Homo sapiens: one gene and its partners. The protein of the gene in region 1 interacts with the protein of each later gene in a biochemical or structural test. Each region holds a gene or a part of one and is shown in the gene's direction. Other genes may lie near its edges.

Region 1 (3,500 bases):
GAATTTAGAGTGAAATAAAAATGAAAAAAAGCAAGAAATATGTTACGACTTTTAGAGCTAGATGTGAAACATACTGATATAAAATTTCAGTGTTCTATTAAGTGACTTTAGTGCTCATAAAAGATGTCACAGCTGTGGAGACTGGTGCTCTTCATTTACAGAATAGGTAGAAAAGTAGTCAGCTTTTCCGTTAGTATGTTTCAGAGCTGTTGGGGCAGATCTGTTTCTGTTTGGCATGGGGAGCTGTTGGGGTTGAAGGGGTGCTGGTGGTGGTGTGTGTGGTGTGTCAGTGAAAGGATTCACTATTTTCTGTTGACTCTTTGTGGCTCTGTGCTTCCTGATGCTTCCATTCTTTTGCAGTGCTTTTTGGTTTGTCTTACAAAAATTTCAGTCCATTAAAGATCGGTGTTACAACATTGCTTTGGCTTAGAGCAAGCTACAAGTTAAATCTTTAGTGATGATGAATTTTCATCAGTGTCAAATAGCTATCCATTTGGACTAAGTTATAGTAATTAAAAAATTTTGCTTTATTTGAGGTATCTTTACCTGTTCTTATTCTTGATCATATCAGAAACAGTTTTATTTCAAGTTGTAATTTGATTAAGAGTAATCAAAAGGATCCATTTCAAAAGGAATTTGTTCAGTGTACCTATAATTTTTAAAGATATATTTTTTGCTGTTAATGGTACTTATTAAGTATAGGTATTTTGTTTTTAAAAAGGTGTCTGAGAAGATAGCTATACAGTGCTGAAAGTGATTATTAGGTGACAAAACCATGGGGAGCACAAGGCCTTTTAGAGTCTGGGCATGAGTTTTGTTGGTTCAGTTCTGGATTTGTCAGAACACTTTAAGCTAGTCAGCTCATAAGGGATGTATTCATAGTCATCAAACTCAGAAATTGATTATGATAGAATGACAGTTGAGGAGAGATACTCCTTTTCACTTACTGGAATTGTTTGTGTCTGCTGTCTAGATTATAACAGCTACCTAAATATCAAGGTATTGAGGAAATTGAGTTGGTAATCAGAACTGCTTGGGGGGCCTGAACTCAGAGCAAAGGGAATTTGAAAGCCTTGAGGGATATTTTAGCCAGAATGTGGGGAAAAAAAAAAAAATCTTCAGTGTCTTCATCTCTTGTGAAATATGGTTGCTTTAGTATATAGCTGAATGCTGTCATATGGTTCAATTTTTATTTAGAATCATGCAGTCATGCAGGCCTCTGTGTTCTTCTGTTATCACAAAGGTTACTTAAAACCACTTACTAGTTTGGAGAATTTTAACCTTAGCCCAGCCCTGAGGATGTATTGATTGAATAGGGATTTGAAAGTGTCGTCCCATTTTTGTGTTCCCACAAGTATTTGTACTAACCTTCGTTTTTGTACTTAGCAAGTTGGCTAGTCGAGGTTTTTCACAGTTGTGGGACCAAAGGGCTTAGCACAGCGCCTGGTAGAGAGTAGACCCTTAATCATTTTTGTCTTATTTTCTGTAACAGCATTATTGATATATAATTCACATACTATAAAATTTACCCTTTAAAAATGTACAACTCTGTAGTTCTTAGAATATTTATTATTAGAATTGTGCAAGATTATAATTATCTAATTTAAGAACATTTTTATCACCGCACAGGGAAGCATCATACCCATTAGCCGTCACTCTTCACTACTCTCCCCTCACTCCCTGGCAACCACTTACCCATTTTATTTTTTTATTAATTTTTTTTTTGAGACAGGGTCTTGCTCTGTCACTCAGGCTGGAATGCAGTGGTATCAATCATATTTTTATTTTTTGTAGAGATCGAGTCCCACTACGTTGCCCAGGCTGGTGCTCCCTGAGCTTCCCAAAACATTGGGGATTACAGGCGTGAGGTTCACTACTGAATTTTATGTTTATGGATTTGCCTGTTCAGGACATTTCATATAAATAGTCAAACAGTTTGTGGTCCTTTGTGGCTGGCTTCTTTCACTTACCAGAATGTTTCAAGGTTCATCCATTTTGTAGCATGTAGACACAGTACTTCATTCTTTTTTATGGCTAACAGTACATTATGTGAATATACTACTATATTTTGTTCATCCATTCATTTGTTAGTGGATATTTGAGTTGTTTCCAGTTTTGATTATTATGAATAATGTTGCTATGAACATTTCATGTATAAATTTTGTATGTTTTCATTTTAGAATACATTTTGAATGGATGAAGGAAAAGTTTTAGCAACTCCCAAAGCTGCATTGTTTTGTAAATGACCAATTTAATCCATTTTATATTGAGATTTACTTGTTTTACTTTGAGGCTCATTCTCTGTGTTCTGGAGGTAGCTTACTGTAGTACAGCTAAATAAATGATTTTTGATTCTTTAATCCAGGATCTAAAATGTCCACTGAGGCACAAAGAGTTGATGACAGTCCAAGCACTAGTGGAGGAAGTTCCGATGGAGATCAACGTGAAAGTGTTCAGCAAGAACCAGAAAGAGAACAAGTTCAGCCCAAGAAAAAGGAGGGAAAAATATCCAGCAAAACCGCTGCTAAATTGTCAACTAGTGCTAAAAGGTACTTCAGTTATTATAACCTTTTTATTGTTGGTATCAATTTATCATCTTAAGTTCTATTTTTCTCTTGCATTTAATCATTTTTTCTGGGATGTCGGCCGTGAACTTCATGGATTTTTCTTTTCCCTTCAAGATGATCTCGTTTACATGGTTTTAACCATAGGGAACTTCAGTATTTAAAGTCAGTTAAATGGCAAGGCAAATTCATAACATACATTTCCATAGTGTGTTTGTGTGTTTATGTATTATCAGGGAAACATATACAGGGTGTGTATGTAAAATTGCAGTAGTTTCATTTATGGTTACTTGACCATAAATATTTTTTTTCTGTTCAGTAACACAGAATAGAGATTAGGAATCTTTGAAGTAGTTACTGAGTGAGTGACAGTTTATTTTCCACTACTCCCAGTTGGTAAAGTCAGAAATGCTGACATTAGCAACAGGTGCATCTTGGTTTCATTACATTAGTCAGTGGATCCATCTTGATACGGATTTTCTCTTTCTCTAGAGAATAGATGGATCTGGAAAGTAGGTATTTGAATGATTTTCTGTTGGTACTCAATCTCTTAAAATGATTGGCATGTCACTGGACTTAAAGGGAATCTGTTTGATATTGTTACATTATAGAATATCTCTTGGAAAATAATTTGAAAGATAAATTAAATGTAGTGTCTTTCCTGATCCTGTGATTTTATGTTCTTGCTTTGTTTTCATATATTTTACATTGACCAAGTCGGAAGTATACATAAAAGCGATCTGTAACTTGTAGGCATAGTGGAATGCCTGAATGTTGTATTACAGCTTTATATGTTATTTTATGGTGTGGGTTAAGGGGAACTCCTTTCTCAAAGATAAAAAACCATTATTTTGTTCTAGTAGACCTTGTTTTCCTTTGGCTTAGTCAGTCTACAGGGTTGGAAAGAACCTTCTCAGGACCCTTGGTGAGAGATGT
Region 2 (3,500 bases), on another chromosome or scaffold:
TAAATTCCTTAACTGTACATTGCAGAGTGAAAACCTTAGGCTCTTTAATGTTAAATTATTTCATCCCTGTTCATTTAAGAGTTAACAAGTCATTCTGACCAAGAAAGCCAGCCACAACCCTTCCCACACAAATGTGAATCCATTCATTTACATGGTAAATAACCTCATTATTTATAATAAATATCTAAGGTGAAACCAAAATCACCTTTTTTACTTTATCCATAAATTAGTAAAATGACAATGTGTTTTTACATTTAATGAAATCAAATATAAGAATCTTCAGTTATATGGAGGAACAAATAATTACTACTGAATAACTCCCTAAATCTCAAATTATTTTCAGAGGAGTTGGTCTTTGTGTGAATACCTGGAAACACTATATTAGATACACATTAGATTCACACTTGTGTGTATATGTATATTTTTTCTATTTTTTTAATTTAGTTTTTATTCTTTGAAAGAGACAAGGTCTCACATATGTGGCCCAGCCTGGTCTTGAACTCCTAGGCTCAAGCAATCCTCGCACCTCAGCTTCCCAAGTAGCTGGGATTACAGGTGCATACCACCACACCCAACCTTATGTATATATATTTTTAAACACTTAGCTTGCATTCACTAACCTTCCTTTCAGCAGATAACTCTATGCTTAATTTTCTCATCTGGTGGTGGTTTTAGGCTTCCAGTCACCTTATGCTGGACTGCTTCTTCTATAAGACTTTCTTTTTTTGTTTTTAAATAAACACATTTACTTAGTTTGAACTTGATATATACTCATTAAGACCAAATGTATAATATTTCTTATGACTTAAAATGAATTATTGTTCACTGGTCTGAGTTTTCTGGTTCTGTCCACTCACTCCTCTTCCCAAGGTAGTCATGATCACTACCTGAATGTTAAGTGTTTTTGAGAATAACTGTTTGATGTTTTGTCTTTTATAACTTCTGTAGTGTTTTGGTGTAGACCAGAATATTTTTGTCTAACTTAAAAAAAAAAACTTGAAATAATAATTCTGTGGTTATATTTCTTCAAACTACATTTAAAGGCTATAGTTCATAATGAGTTAAATATCGTCTTTAAAACTGTACATTCAAATTTTGCTTTATTTTTTAATTTCAAAAGGCACCTCAGTTTCCTTCAGAATGCTGCAAAACTATATGCTACAGTATATTGTATTCCATTTGCAGAAGAGGTAAGATATTCTTTAAGCCTTAGCAAGTGATGCAAAACCAAATTAGAATTAGATGACTGATGCACTAATTGCATCAAAACATGTTTGTTTGTTATAAGAATCACTCTTTTTGATACAGAATTTTTATTGTATTTTTACCCATACTAACATAATGGAAGCTAAAAGCTCATTGCAGTATTGCTAAGTAGAAGTCGGATTTTTCCTTCTGAATTGAAGCAGTGAAACAGCATTATTTGTTAAAAGCAGTTAAACTTTGTTTTAAGAATATTTATAACCTGCTTAGCAGCTTCAGTTATCCTAGTTATTCTAAAAAGCCACAGCAAACCATTTCATCGCAATTTTGAAATACTGCGTAGAGATTTTCTTTGTTAACATTTGTTTGTTATTTTGTGATAATTTATGTGCTTTTCAGGAAATCTGAAAATGCTCCCTTATATTGACATTTCTTACTTTAGCATCATACTCATTCTCTTAAACATCATCTTCATTGACTAACATCTAAAGAGCCTCATACGGTTTTGAGAGGCATCTCTTTTCTTCACAAATGCATATTCTAGCTAAGTAAATTGCTGTACTTTTAGGTGGGCTAAATAGAGAAACATGAATCAGATCCCATAATTAACACTGGCTGTTTTGGATTCAGATAACAATATCTGTTTTAGATTAATCCTTTTTGGAATTCATACAAATAAACTGTAAATATTTGGTAAAAATAGTGGCATTCAGTCTGATATTCTTTTTGGGAAAATCAGTGGTAATTTAGTGGTGAGTGTGGTAATTGACCTCAAAAGCACTAAGTCTCAGCCTTTGCCAAGCAACTTCTCAATGACAAATGTAAATACAACCCATAGCTTTAAATTCATATAAGTTCATCTTTAACCATTTAAATATCTCCCTCCTTCTTAAGGTATGAATTCCATTTACTTATTTTACTTATTGAGTATAACTTACTTCAGGGAACTTTGTAAAACATTAAAAACATAAAACATAAAGCTAAGGGAATTAAAACTGACTGATCAAGTCACTCAGTTTTATATTTACAACCAGTCCTAAAAATGCCTTTTAAAAAATTTGCAGAAGGACTAAAATTTCAAGTTTGTTGACTAATAAGTACTTTTTTACCCCTTACCTTCTCCTCCCCCATAACCTTTATGGGGGGATATTTTTATAGAAATAAAGATAAATGTCTCAAATGGATGTCTACATATTCAGATAATGAAATATTCATATATTGTAATATGATTAAGGACCTTTTGTAGGATATTTTTAGCTTTAGAATTTAGAAGAATATGTTTGTTGGTAAAATTACTTTTTTAAAAACAGGACTTATCAGCAGATGCCCTCTTGAATATTCTTTCAGAAGTAAAGATTCAGGAATTCAAGCCTTCCAATAAGGTATGTTTAAAAAATCATTCATTCAGCAAATAGTTTGGGAATTTGGACTTGTACCAAGTCCCATTCTAAACCTGGAGAATATCACAATGAATGGTTCTTGCTCTTGCTCTTGTCAGTGCAACTTGAGTTTGAAGTAGATTTGTCAGAATCACAAACTGTTGATTAATACTAATTTTATTCTAGTGTGGAATTTTAAAAAAGATCAGTATAGACTTAGATTGTATGAGCTACTCAGTTAATATTTTTTTATGCCCACTATATCATTGTGGGTATTAAAAATTAGATATATTGGAGTTCTGTCAGTGAACAAGATACATAAAGATCCCCTGTTGTTATAGAGCTTACATGCCTTTGTGAGAAGATAGATAATAAAATACATACATGAATAACATAATAATACCTTCTGAAGGAATGTATAAAATACATTGGACCAATGTATTTTGGGCGGAGAGGGACTATAAACAAAAATGCTAATAAGTACATAATATTGCAGTGTGAGTGTAAGTGCTAAGAAGGAAAAATACAACAGGGAAAAGAAAGAGTGATGGAGCTGGTATAATTTTATATGGGATGGAAGTGAGGAAAACCTCTGATAACAGTAACATTTTAGCAGAAACCTGAAGGAAGTAAAGGAATAGTGAAAGAGCAATGTAGGCAGCAGAAATAAGTGCAGAGAAAGGCCTTGAAAAGCTTTTAAGGTCAGGACTCGTCTAGAAGAGAATATACAAGGGGAAGAGTCTTAAATGAGGAAATTACAGAGATAGTTGGGGCTATGATAAAGAAAGAATATTTTCTTAGTTGAAATAAGAAGCTAGCTTAGTAGCTCAGAGTGAAGGGGATAAGAAGATAAAGGAAGTAAGAGCAAAGAAAAGAAGGTATGAAATAATTGTCCAGTGAAGTGGAAGAGTCACTTAA
Region 3 (2,162 bases), on another chromosome or scaffold:
GGTGTGTGTGTCGGGTCCCTTGGAGGGTTTGTTAAATGCCGATGGCTGGGCCCCACCCCAGAGCCTCCTCTCCAGGAGGCCAACAGGCCTGAGAATGTGCATTTCTCACGAATTCCCCAGTGATGCGGATGCTGCTGGCTGTGGGACCCAGGACCACACTGAGAATCACTGCTCTGTTAAAAATCCAGGCAATGTGGGACGGACTTACAGTCTTTATGTGAGAGGAACAACTTTTAAAAAAAATTTTTAATATTTTTAATAGAGTTTCACTCTGTTGCTCAGGCAGGAGCGCAGTAGTGCCGTCATGGCTCACTGCAGCCCCAAACTCCTGGGCTCAAGTGATCCTCCCATCTCAGCCTCCTGAGTAGCTGGGACTACAGGCGTGTGCCACCATACCTGGCTAATTTTTAAATTTTTTGTAGAGATGGGGTCTTGCTATGTTGCCCAGTTTGGTTTCAAACTCCTGGCCTTAAGTGATCTGTCCACCTGGGATCCTAGGCATGGATTACAGGCGTGAGCTACTGTGCCTGGCTGACTTATTTATTTTTATTATTTTTAATTAGGGGTCCCAGCAGTGGCAGCGGTGGTGGGGGTTTGTGTGTGTTAGGGGGTTTGTCAAAGTGAGATTCCTGTGTGCAGCTTCAAGAATCAAGTCTCGGGCCGGGTGCAGTGGCTCACGCCTGTAATCCCAGCACTCTGGGAAGCCAAGGAGGGTGGATTACCTGAGGTTGGGAGGGCAAGACCGTCCTGGCTAACACGGTAAAACCCGTCTCTACTAAAAATACAAAAACTTAGCCAGGTGTGGTCGCACATGCTTGTAATCCCAGCTACTCAGGAGGCTGGTGCAGGAGTATCGCTTGAACCCGGAAGGTAGAGATTGCTGTGAGCTGAGATCACACCATTGTATTCCAGCCTGGGCAACAAGAGCAAAACTCCATCTCAAAAAAAAAAAAAAAAAAAAAAAAAAGTCTAGTCTCTGAGAAGGCTTTGGGCTCCACCCAGGTCCTGATGCTACAGTGGGGACCAGGCCCCCTGGGCATGGTGGCCTCCTGCTTGGTGCTGTGGCTCTGAGCTAAAGCCTCTCCCTCCCCTTCAGGAACCAGGCTGTGCGCATCCAGGAGGGCCGGTACCGCCACCCCGGCTGCTACACCTGTGCCGACTGTGGGCTGAACCTGAAGATGCGCGGGCACTTCTGGGTGGGTGACGAGCTGTACTGTGAGAAGCATGCCCGCCAGCGCTACTCCGCACCTGCCACCCTCAGCTCTCGGGCCTGAGCCCGCCATGCCCTCAGCCTGCCTCACTGCTGGGCCAGGGTCATGCCTATATAAGTTGGCATGGCAGGGACAATGGTGGGCAGTTGCTCTTACATGAGCTAAGTTTGGAGACCTGAGGCCCCTTTGTCCTCGCTGGGTGGGCCAAGGTCTGGGACCTGTCTTGGACTGTGGGAGACTCACCCTCACCTTGCCAGGCCTCTCCCCTGCAGGACTGGCATTGCACTAGTCTGAGGTGGCCACTGCCTTTGATCAACCTTTGTGTGCGAGGGTCTAAGTAGGGTCGAACACAGAAGTGGGAAGGAGAGGGGTGGGCCAGGGGCTAATGGTGTCACTGTGTAAAGTTTTTGACATACTAGCTCTATAAATATATGAATATGGACAAAATAAAGTAGATGTCCCTTCCTTCTTTTTCCTACCGCCAGCCCTGGGTATGACCTGCTCCCACCACTGGGTGGAGGGTCTTTATTTATGCAACATACGTTTCTTCTTCTTTTCCCTCCCTCAAATCCCACCCCTGCCAGTTGCCTGCACCTGACATTTCCCATGGAAGGGCCTTGCCTCTTTTAGGTTGGGAGTCATGTCATTCCTTAACCTTTTTGTAAAGATGCCCGTTTTACAGGAGGACGCTTGTGCTATGGAGGGAATGAGATTGTCACTGGAAGCTTTGGAGGGGATGGTGGAGGGCGCCAAGCGGAGGGACAGGAGGAAGACCAGGAGACCCATCCAGCCAAGCTGGTGAGACAACCTCTGATCCTGAGGACCGGCCGCCCACCAAGGGTTGGGCCCCCGGGGCCAGGTTGATCTACCGACACCTTCCACTTCTTTCCTGGGAGAGACTGCTGGCTTCATTGGTGATTGATTTGGAGGGGGGAAAAAGGGCAGGGTGGC
Region 4 (3,500 bases), on another chromosome or scaffold:
CAGCCTCATGAGTAGCTGGGACTGCAGGCTCCCGCCACCACGCCCGGCTAATTTTTTGTATTTTTATTAAAGACAGGGGGGTTTCACCGTGTTAGCCAGGGTGGTCTCGATATCCTGACCTTGTGATCCGCCCGTCTCAGCCTCCCAAAGTGTTGGGATTACAGGCGTGAGCCACCGTGTCTCGCCAGTATCTTATTATTTTATTAAGTGTATGTAGAAATAATGATATTTAATTTTTGCATGCCAAATTATTTTCATTTACTTTTACATTCCCTTTACCCCAACATTTAAATACAATGAAATTGTAGTAATTTATGTACAACTAAATACACAACATGTAATATCTAAGCAAAACTTACAACAACATAGGATTGAAATAGACAAGTTGTGAACCATTTTGTTAGAAGTATTTGGTGTGCCACATTTACTGTAGTATGTGTCCATAGATTGTTGCATTTGTAATACCTGTTCTAAATATGGGAAACTTGGTTGTAATTTATGCTAAGTATGTGAGAAGCTATAAAATTGCCATGTGTAGGTTACTATGGGCATATATTATTAATGGAAACTAACTAAAATTTGCTGCTGAAAGTCACTGAAATAAAGTTTAGTAAAACTTTGTAAATCTTGCTTTGAAATATTTTAAAAATGTATACAACTTTAAGCTCTAAACTACTCTTAGAACTGTAGACCAAGGTAGGCAAATTAGGGCCTGCCTGGTGCACTACCAGTTTTGTTAAAAAAAAAAAAAAAATCAAGAGTATTTACACATGAAAATTTATATAAATTTTCAGGGTCCATGAAGTTTTATTTGAAACATAGTCACACTGAATAATTTATGTATTATCTGTGGCTACTTTCTTGCTACAGCGTCAGAGTAGTTGAGTCAGAGCTCTATGGCTCACATTTTAAAATATTTATTATCTGATACTTTACAGAAAAAACATTGGTCAGCCTCTGATCTAGAAACTCTTAATGCCATTTTAAAAAGTTATTGATTGTAAAACTTTTAAAATTATCATTGTAAAGTTCTGACACTGTGTTCTCCCAGTAAGTTGTTATTGCAAAGAAACACTAGACATATGGGAAAACTGTATTTTAAAATCTGTATTTTAGTCTTGTGAAAAATGATATTAAAAAATGGATAGGATCCAGAGTTTTCATTCTAAATTTAAAAAGTATAGTGAGATAGACCAAATTTTGAAGTACAGATATTGGCTTAGGATGCTACCTGGGAAACATTAGGGATTGCTCTCAGGAAAATATTGAAGAAGTGGTATTTATATTATACATTTCATAAAAACTTTACCTGAGGTGTAATGAAGTAAATCCTAGTATAGTTCATTTGATTTGTTTTCATGATTATCAGTTAAACCTTTGGAAATACCCATAAGACTTAAACTGGCTTTAAAATTTCTTCCTCATTACAGGGACTACCAATTACCTCTTAATTAGTGACCCTTTTTGTAGACGTTTTGTAGTGTCATTAGGTCTGCATTAGAGTTATGTAGGATAAAGTATTTATGAACTCAAAACTGCAGTTGCCATGTTTTTGTGACATTACTTGTTTATTATGGTTTTTGACATCTCTTCCATGTAAATTTAAATTTGCTAGGACATTTAATTGATGGTTTCAAAGCATCTCATCTAAAAGTTGTGTTTTATAAATTACAATAATAACCATTAACTAGCCTACTTCTTCATGTTTTCATATCAATATATGTATATTTTTAATAGTCATGTGGTCAGCAAATGGGGGTAATGGAGAAATAAGCTTCTCTCAGTATTATAGCGTGAACAGAGATTCGTGTTTTTTTCTTTAATCTTTAATGTAGCCAATTTGTGTTTTCTGATTTGTAGACCTTGGTTGCATGTACAAGTTATTTAGTCGTGTGCCAAATGGTTTGAAAACAATGTGTGAGTGTATGAGTTCCTATTTGAGGGAGCAAGGTAAAGCTCTTGTTTCTGAAGAAGGAGAAGGAAAGAATCCTGTTGACTATATCCAGGTAAGTAAACCCAGAAGATTCTCTGTGTTTATGATAAAGGCATTTTGACAAGTGCTAAAAAGGCCACTTTTACCATGCTGTGTATTGTGTACTTTCAACTTAATTGTCCCAGTAGTAAATTAATATTTGTAATTATCCTACATATTTTAGGATTTTGCAAGGTGTGCGTATTTATATCAGGGAGCTAAAATTCAGCTGCTACTTTTCATTTAACTTCTTTGATGAAGACCTTGTTTAAATAGCCTCAATAGTGAATGTGAGGTTCTTTGGTATGCCTTAGTGTTTGTATACTGTAGTATATTGGAAAAAACAACTGGTTTAAGTATTTTTTGTTTGAAAATGTTTTGTTTTCAAGGAGTACTATGAATAAATTATGTGCCATGTTTTGTGTTTTAACATAATCAGCTTTTTTTGGTACATTTTTTAAGCTAATTTTTTTCACTGGCTAACCCATTCCATCAAGACAGGAGAATGAGAAACAGTGAGGAGGTTCTTTGGTTCGTTTGCATTGTATTAATACATATATGGAAGTTATAATACTTCTCTCATTGACATTTTTAATAGAGGCTTAGATATAGGCTTGAAAATAATATCAAAACTGTAAGTTTAAAAATGAATATACATGTTTATTACCAGCAAAGTTAAGATAAACATACATGGTCATAAGTGTATTATTTATGGAAAAATTATTATAATGTGTCCTAAATTTTGTTTTTATTTCTAAGGGCTTATTGGATCTGAAGAGTAGGTTCGATCGCTTCCTCCTGGAATCATTCAACAATGACCGTCTCTTTAAACAAACTATTGCGGGTGACTTTGAGTATTTTCTCAACCTCAACTCCAGGTCTCCTGAATACCTCTCATTATTTATTGATGATAAGCTGAAAAAGGGAGTCAAAGGGGTAAGTAGTAATGCATTTGAAAATAACATTTAATTTTATTTAAAGATATAAAATTATATGTAAAATTAGGACATTTCACAGATAAAAATTAAGCATGACCCATTGCTGTGCTTAAATGGGTGCCATGGTCTATTAAAAAATATTGTTTGAAATACTTGACATGCCCAAACGTAGTTAGACATTTCACTTAATGTGTAATTGGCTTCAAAAACAAGCAACTGGATGGGCTTGGTGGCTCATGCCTATAATCCCAGCATTTGGGGAGGCCAAGACAGGAGGCTCTCTTGAGGCCAGGAGTTTGAAATTAGCCTTGTTAACTTAGTGAGACTCCATCTCTACAAAAAAAAAGAAAAAAGAAAAAAATTAGTGGCACACAGTGGTATACACCTGTTGTCCCAGAAGCTGAGGCAGAGGATCACTTGAGCTCAGGAGTTCAAGGCTGCAGTGAGCTGTGATCGCGTGACTGCACTCTATGCTGGGCGACAGAGCAAGACCTTGTCTCAAAAAAACTGAACAACTGTCCAGGTATGGTGGCTCATGCCTGTAATCTCAGCACTTTGGGAGGCCGAGGTGGGCAGACCACCTGAGGTTG

What was found.
Region 2: of the proteins of UBE2E2 (region 1) and UBA6, one has a biochemical effect on the other in vitro, tested with the Homo sapiens proteins (one study listed by BioGRID).
Region 3: the proteins of UBE2E2 (region 1) and PDLIM2 form a complex in vitro, tested with the Homo sapiens proteins (one study listed by BioGRID).
Region 4: the proteins of UBE2E2 (region 1) and CUL3 form a complex in vitro, tested with the Homo sapiens proteins (one study listed by BioGRID).

What each region holds. Positions count from the first base shown.
Region 1 is NC_000003.12:23,206,327-23,209,826, forward strand, and holds part of UBE2E2 (ubiquitin-conjugating enzyme E2 E2), read left to right. Parts: intron 1-2,365; 5' UTR 2,366-2,373; coding exon 2,374-2,549; intron 2,550-3,500.
Region 2 is NC_000004.12:67,628,156-67,631,655, reverse strand, and holds part of UBA6 (ubiquitin-like modifier-activating enzyme 6), read left to right. Parts: intron 1-1,120; coding exon 1,121-1,190; intron 1,191-2,513; coding exon 2,514-2,585; intron 2,586-3,500. UniProt on the Homo sapiens protein: Activates ubiquitin by first adenylating its C-terminal glycine residue with ATP, and thereafter linking this residue to the side chain of a cysteine residue in E1, yielding a ubiquitin-E1 thioester and free AMP.
Region 3 is NC_000008.11:22,592,637-22,594,798, forward strand, and holds the end of PDLIM2 (PDZ and LIM domain protein 2), read left to right. Parts: intron 1-1,096; coding exon 1,097-1,274; 3' UTR 1,275-1,662; downstream 1,663-2,162. UniProt on the Homo sapiens protein: Probable adapter protein located at the actin cytoskeleton that promotes cell attachment. Necessary for the migratory capacity of epithelial cells. Overexpression enhances cell adhesion to collagen and fibronectin and suppresses anchorage independent growth.
Region 4 is NC_000002.12:224,505,364-224,508,863, reverse strand, and holds part of CUL3 (cullin-3), read left to right. Parts: intron 1-1,860; coding exon 1,861-2,006; intron 2,007-2,731; coding exon 2,732-2,908; intron 2,909-3,500. UniProt on the Homo sapiens protein: Core component of multiple cullin-RING-based BCR (BTB-CUL3-RBX1) E3 ubiquitin-protein ligase complexes which mediate the ubiquitination and subsequent proteasomal degradation of target proteins.